Homo sapiens: one gene and its partner. The protein of the gene in region 1 interacts with the protein of each later gene in a biochemical or structural test. Each region holds a gene or a part of one and is shown in the gene's direction. Other genes may lie near its edges.

Evidence for each region. The genes of interacting proteins can lie anywhere in the genome.
Region 2: the proteins of DNAJA2 (region 1) and ERG form a complex in vitro, tested with the Homo sapiens proteins (one study listed by BioGRID).

The regions. Positions count from the first base shown.
Region 1 is NC_000016.10:46,972,075-46,975,826, reverse strand, and holds the start of DNAJA2 (dnaJ homolog subfamily A member 2), read left to right. Parts: upstream 1-2,152; 5' UTR 2,153-2,254; coding exon 2,255-2,332; intron 2,333-3,752. UniProt on the Homo sapiens protein: Co-chaperone of Hsc70. Stimulates ATP hydrolysis and the folding of unfolded proteins mediated by HSPA1A/B (in vitro).
Region 2 is NC_000021.9:38,379,860-38,383,611, reverse strand, and holds the end of ERG (transcriptional regulator ERG), read left to right. Parts: coding exon 1-209; 3' UTR 210-3,576; downstream 3,577-3,752. UniProt on the Homo sapiens protein: Transcriptional regulator. May participate in transcriptional regulation through the recruitment of SETDB1 histone methyltransferase and subsequent modification of local chromatin structure.

The DNA.
Region 1 (3,752 bases):
GATTCTCCCACCTCAGCCTCCCGAGTAGCTGGGACTACAGGCGTGCGCAACCACCCCCAGCTAATTTTTGTGTTTTTAATAGAGACGGGGTCTTGCCATGTTGACCAGGCTGGTCTCGAACTCCTGACCTCAAGTGATCAGGACTTGAGGCAGGAGTGATCCCGCCTCAGCCTCCCAAAGTTCTGGGATTACAGGCCACTGCGCCCAGCCCTAAGTAATAGAAATGTATAACTCTTTTAAACCAATGATATAAAAAATAACAAGCCCCATCTTACACCTGAGGAAACCTCAGAAAAGTTAAGTAACTTGCTGAAGGTCACATTGTTCCTAAATGGCAGAGTCAGACTACCAACCTACACAGTCTAACCTCGCCATAACTTTACACCGTCTCTTACGAACATCTCAAAATGTGAAAAGTAGAGAATTGGATTTTACAGCCGTGCATGAGGATGACGTCAGCATTTACACGGCAATGGCGGTTGGCAGAGGCAGTGGCTCAGGCCTGCAATCCCAGCACTTTGGGAGGCCAAGGTGGGTGGATGATTTGAGATCAGGAGTTCGAGACCAGCCTGGTCAACATGGTGAAGCTCCACCTCTACTAAAAATACAAAAATTAGCCGGGCATGGTGGTGGGCGCCTGTAATCCCAGCTACTCGAGAGGCTGAGGTGGGAGAATCACTTGAAGCCGGGAGGTGGAGGTTGCAGCGAGCTGAGATGGCGCCACTGCACTCCAGCCTGAGCGACATAACGAGACGCTGTTTCAAGTAAAAAAAAAAAAAAAAAAAAAAAAACAAAAGAGTTCGAGATCCTACCACAAAAGGTACAAACGAAGGGTGGTGGGAACTCGAATGAGATAGCAGTGTTCACCAGTGCCCAGTAAAGGAAGACTTCACAGAGGGAGCAGGATTTCAGATGGGATTTGAGGAAAAGGGTTTAAGGACTATTAATGACTTATCACTGATTACTCTTAGGGTTTTCAAGCTAAATTTCAGAGTCCTTGTCATGGAATTCAGGCCCTCCACAACTAGGTCAAAGGGAACGCCAAGGAAGAAACATTATCCTGAGTGAGATGCTTATGCTGAAGTCTTTGCTATCAGTTCAGGTTCCAAGGGATCAGAAAACCTTACTTTTCTGTCTCCATAAACCGTAAATGGGTTGAAGGCAGGCACTTTTGTAACACTCCTCTCCCCGGACCAGGCCTCTGTACATCATAGCACTTGGTAGATGCACAGCATACTTTCTGAGCGAAACTAAAACGAATGTAAATCAAGTCACCTGGTGGCCAGACTTGCCTTACACCATCTAAACCTCTGGTGTTAGCTAATTTTAAAGCTATCAAGTAAGAGGCTTAAACACGTGGTCCAGATGCAACATGTGGACCTTGGTTTGGACCCGGATGCCACAAACCAATTGTAAAAGGACATGAGATCATCTGAAAAACCTAAATATGGACTGGGAATTAGATTAAGGAATTGTTAATTTCATTAGATGAGATTACATCGTTATGCCTTTAAAAGTTGTCTCTTAGATATTAAATATATACACTTAGGGTATTTATGAATGAAACGGTTTCCCTTAAAACACTAGAAATGTATGGTGGAGCCAATGAAACAGGTAAAAGGTAGCTAACTGCACTATGGGGAGTAATATACTGCTTCTGCTAAATGTTTCAGAATTCTCATAATATAAAACACAACATACACACACACGCGCCCCCCAGTTTTTTTCATCGTAAGCCCCGAGGGAGCCAGACCCAGAGGGTCCACCGACGTCCCGGATTCTAATAACGACATCTGCGCGCCAGGCGGGCCTCCTGCGGGAGCCGGGGCCCATTTTCTTTCGAAGCTAACGAAGCTGCTGCGCAGGCCTGTTAATTCCCTCAGCAGCCAGTGCGAGGTTAAACACGCGACCTCGCAACCATGGCTTTTGAGAGGAAGCTGAATTCCTGGGGTGCGCCGTGCACAGTTCTTCATTTCCTACGTTGGCCCTGCCCAGCCGCCTGGACCTGGAGGAAAACAGAGAACCTGGCCCACTCTTCAATACTTCGACCCCAGTGGCCGCGCCTCGGGCGCTCGGGGGCGGGCTCTGCACAGCGACGTCACGGCGCACCGTGCGCTGGGTCAAAGTTCAGCCCCGCCCCCGCTTCCCCCTCGCTGTCTCCCTCGGCCTGTGCCGCCGCCGACGCCGCTTGTGGGCCCGACTCCGCTCTGTCTGCTTCGCCACCTTCTCCCCGAGCACTGCCCGGCCGGCCGCCATGGCTAACGTGGCTGACACGAAGCTGTACGACATCCTGGGCGTCCCGCCCGGCGCCAGCGAGAACGAGCTGAAGAAGGTATCTGGGAGCGGGCCGGGCGGGTGTGAGGGGCGCGGGGCCTGCGCGGCCAGGGATGTCTTCTTCAGCCAGGCCGCGCTACTGGGCTGCCCGCGAGCCGGCGCCGGCCGTGACTGGCCCGGGCTGGGAGTCGGCGGCGGCGGCGGGACCGGCCTCGCCGCGAGCCGCGCACTCCGGCCTCGGCTGACCTTGGGGCCGCCGGCCCCGCCCGCCCGCAGATGCAGCAAATAAAACTCACTCCTGCGCAAACACGATGGGAGCCCTTCCTTCCTCCCTCCTTGAACGAGCGCCGGGGGCTGGTATCCCCCGGGAGGCAGCAGCTCGCCCGGTCCTTCGCGTCGAGGTCACCACCCCGGAAAAACAGGTTGGACCGAGGTGCTCAGCGCATCCCGGCCCCGAGAGAGAAGCTGTCCGCCCCGCGGCCGTCGGCCCCGGGTCTGGTGCTCCGCGGGGAGGAACGGCGGGGAGGTCGAGGCCGCCCCCACAGAGCGCCTCGGGCGGATGGGGTTGTTTCCTGGGTTCCGCGGCCGCCGGCTGCGGGAGCTCCTCCCTCTCTGCGTCCCTCGCCCATTGACCCGGAGGTAGCTGGGTCTGTGTTTGGATGCATTGTTCTTTGGGCAGGTAATGCTAATGTCCTGTACCTGCTTAGGAATAAGCCGTGGTCCCAGCCAAACGCCTGAGTGTACAGTAAACATAAATAGAAGGCCTTATTATTGCTATTTGCAATGCTGCGATATCTTTCATCTCAGGATTTCAAAGCACACGAGGCATTTAAGCCCCACAGCATCCTCACCAGGCTAAGAGCATCCAGATTTGTAAGCCGAGAAAAATGAGAATGCTCCTTAGGCAGTGAGAAGAGTACAGTGGACTTCCTGTTACCTTACCGGAAATGCTAGTCTGTATTATATAATTCACGAGCCTCCGTGAATGAAGATTTAAGTGCTTTAGGACCCAAACACCTCGTTGAGAGTGTGTGCAACTTCTCTACCACCGAAGTTGCCACCACGACCCCAGTTAACCACCACGTGCAAATAAAACACCAAAAGACGCTAACTAGGACCACCTTTACTTTTTCATGATGTTACAGTTAGAAGGAAGGCGTGAGCCATCGGGAGCAGGAATTGTGACTTTAGCTTGATTTATAGTAATGTTTTGCAGTCCGCAAAGCTTAACAGTCATTTATCTCGAATTTATTAGGGTCGTCTTGGTCTGGTTACTTGGCCATCAAAGACACTTGACAATAGGGAAAATATGGATAATGTTTGAACGTTTTGTTTTTCCCTGTGGCATTGCTTCATTGTTTTATCTGGTTTTCACGTCACTGTAACCTGTTTTCAAGTATAGCTGCTGTCTACTTGGTTATATTACATTAGTAAACAGTATCGCGAGAAAGTGCCGAAGAATCCCTACGAATAGAAAA
Region 2 (3,752 bases), on another chromosome or scaffold:
ACCCCTCAGACCTCCCGTACATGGGCTCCTATCACGCCCACCCACAGAAGATGAACTTTGTGGCGCCCCACCCTCCAGCCCTCCCCGTGACATCTTCCAGTTTTTTTGCTGCCCCAAACCCATACTGGAATTCACCAACTGGGGGTATATACCCCAACACTAGGCTCCCCACCAGCCATATGCCTTCTCATCTGGGCACTTACTACTAAAGACCTGGCGGAGGCTTTTCCCATCAGCGTGCATTCACCAGCCCATCGCCACAAACTCTATCGGAGAACATGAATCAAAAGTGCCTCAAGAGGAATGAAAAAAGCTTTACTGGGGCTGGGGAAGGAAGCCGGGGAAGAGATCCAAAGACTCTTGGGAGGGAGTTACTGAAGTCTTACTACAGAAATGAGGAGGATGCTAAAAATGTCACGAATATGGACATATCATCTGTGGACTGACCTTGTAAAAGACAGTGTATGTAGAAGCATGAAGTCTTAAGGACAAAGTGCCAAAGAAAGTGGTCTTAAGAAATGTATAAACTTTAGAGTAGAGTTTGGAATCCCACTAATGCAAACTGGGATGAAACTAAAGCAATAGAAACAACACAGTTTTGACCTAACATACCGTTTATAATGCCATTTTAAGGAAAACTACCTGTATTTAAAAATAGAAACATATCAAAAACAAGAGAAAAGACACGAGAGAGACTGTGGCCCATCAACAGACGTTGATATGCAACTGCATGGCATGTGCTGTTTTGGTTGAAATCAAATACATTCCGTTTGATGGACAGCTGTCAGCTTTCTCAAACTGTGAAGATGACCCAAAGTTTCCAACTCCTTTACAGTATTACCGGGACTATGAACTAAAAGGTGGGACTGAGGATGTGTATAGAGTGAGCGTGTGATTGTAGACAGAGGGGTGAAGAAGGAGGAGGAAGAGGCAGAGAAGGAGGAGACCAGGGCTGGGAAAGAAACTTCTCAAGCAATGAAGACTGGACTCAGGACATTTGGGGACTGTGTACAATGAGTTATGGAGACTCGAGGGTTCATGCAGTCAGTGTTATACCAAACCCAGTGTTAGGAGAAAGGACACAGCGTAATGGAGAAAGGGGAAGTAGTAGAATTCAGAAACAAAAATGCGCATCTCTTTCTTTGTTTGTCAAATGAAAATTTTAACTGGAATTGTCTGATATTTAAGAGAAACATTCAGGACCTCATCATTATGTGGGGGCTTTGTTCTCCACAGGGTCAGGTAAGAGATGGCCTTCTTGGCTGCCACAATCAGAAATCACGCAGGCATTTTGGGTAGGCGGCCTCCAGTTTTCCTTTGAGTCGCGAACGCTGTGCGTTTGTCAGAATGAAGTATACAAGTCAATGTTTTTCCCCCTTTTTATATAATAATTATATAACTTATGCATTTATACACTACGAGTTGATCTCGGCCAGCCAAAGACACACGACAAAAGAGACAATCGATATAATGTGGCCTTGAATTTTAACTCTGTATGCTTAATGTTTACAATATGAAGTTATTAGTTCTTAGAATGCAGAATGTATGTAATAAAATAAGCTTGGCCTAGCATGGCAAATCAGATTTATACAGGAGTCTGCATTTGCACTTTTTTTAGTGACTAAAGTTGCTTAATGAAAACATGTGCTGAATGTTGTGGATTTTGTGTTATAATTTACTTTGTCCAGGAACTTGTGCAAGGGAGAGCCAAGGAAATAGGATGTTTGGCACCCAAATGGCGTCAGCCTCTCCAGGTCCTTCTTGCCTCCCCTCCTGTCTTTTATTTCTAGCCCCTTTTGGAACAGAAGGACCCCGGGTTTCACATTGGAGCCTCCATATTTATGCCTGGAATGGAAAGAGGCCTATGAAGCTGGGGTTGTCATTGAGAAATTCTAGTTCAGCACCTGGTCACAAATCACCCTTAATTCCTGCTATGATTAAAATACATTTGTTGAACAGTGAACAAGCTACCACTCGTAAGGCAAACTGTATTATTACTGGCAAATAAAGCGTCATGGATAGCTGCAATTTCTCACTTTACAGAAACAAGGGATAACGTCTAGATTTGCTGCGGGGTTTCTCTTTCAGGAGCTCTCACTAGGTAGACAGCTTTAGTCCTGCTACATCAGAGTTACCTGGGCACTGTGGCTTGGGATTCACTAGCCCTGAGCCTGATGTTGCTGGCTATCCCTTGAAGACAATGTTTATTTCCATAATCTAGAGTCAGTTTCCCTGGGCATCTTTTCTTTGAATCACAAATGCTGCCAACCTTGGTCCAGGTGAAGGCAACTCAAAAGGTGAAAATACAAGGTGACCGTGCGAAGGCGCTAGCCGAAACATCTTAGCTGAATAGGTTTCTGAACTGGCCCTTTTCATAGCTGTTTCAGGGCCTGTTTTTTTCACGTTGCAGTCCTTTTGCTATGATTATGTGAAGTTGCCAAACCTCTGTGCTGTGGATGTTTTGGCAGTGGGCTTTGAAGTCGGCAGGACACGATTACCAATGCTCCTGACACCCCGTGTCATTTGGATTAGACGGAGCCCAACCATCCATCATTTTGCAGCAGCCTGGGAAGGCCCACAAAGTGCCCGTATCTCCTTAGGGAAAATAAATAAATACAATCATGAAAGCTGGCAGTTAGGCTGACCCAAACTGTGCTAATGGAAAAGATCAGTCATTTTTATTTTGGAATGCAAAGTCAAGACACACCTACATTCTTCATAGAAATACACATTTACTTGGATAATCACTCAGTTCTCTCTTCAAGACTGTCTCATGAGCAAGATCATAAAAACAAGACATGATTATCATATTCAATTTTAACAGATGTTTTCCATTAGATCCCTCAACCCTCCACCCCCAGTCCAGGTTATTAGCAAGTCTTATGAGCAACTGGGATAATTTTGGATAACATGATAATACTGAGTTCCTTCAAATACATAATTCTTAAATTGTTTCAAAATGGCATTAACTCTCTGTTACTGTTGTAATCTAATTCCAAAGCCCCCTCCAGGTCATATTCATAATTGCATGAACCTTTTCTCTCTGTTTGTCCCTGTCTCTTGGCTTGCCCTGATGTATACTCAGACTCCTGTACAATCTTACTCCTGCTGGCAAGAGATTTGTCTTCTTTTCTTGTCTTCAATTGGCTTTCGGGCCTTGTATGTGGTAAAATCACCAAATCACAGTCAAGACTGTGTTTTTGTTCCTAGTTTGATGCCCTTATGTCCCGGAGGGGTTCACAAAGTGCTTTGTCAGGACTGCTGCAGTTAGAAGGCTCACTGCTTCTCCTAAGCCTTCTGCACAGATGTGGCACCTGCAACCCAGGAGCAGGAGCCGGAGGAGCTGCCCTCTGACAGCAGGTGCAGCAGAGATGGCTACAGCTCAGGAGCTGGGAAGGTGATGGGGCACAGGGAAAGCACAGATGTTCTGCAGCGCCCCAAAGTGACCCATTGCCTGGAGAAAGAGAAGAAAATATTTTTTAAAAAGCTAGTTTATTTAGCTTCTCATTAATTCATTCAAATAAAGTCGTGAGGTGACTAATTAGAGAATAAAAATTACTTTGGACTACTCAAAAATACACCAAATTCTGTGCCTTCTTTTTATCTTTTAACCTTGGTTTAAAGAAATCTTGTTGACTCACACCTGTAATCCCAACACTTTGAAGGACAGAGGCGGGTGGATCGCTTGAGCCCGGGACCAGCCTGGGCAACATGAGAGTACCCAGTCTCTACAAAAAAATAAATAAATACAA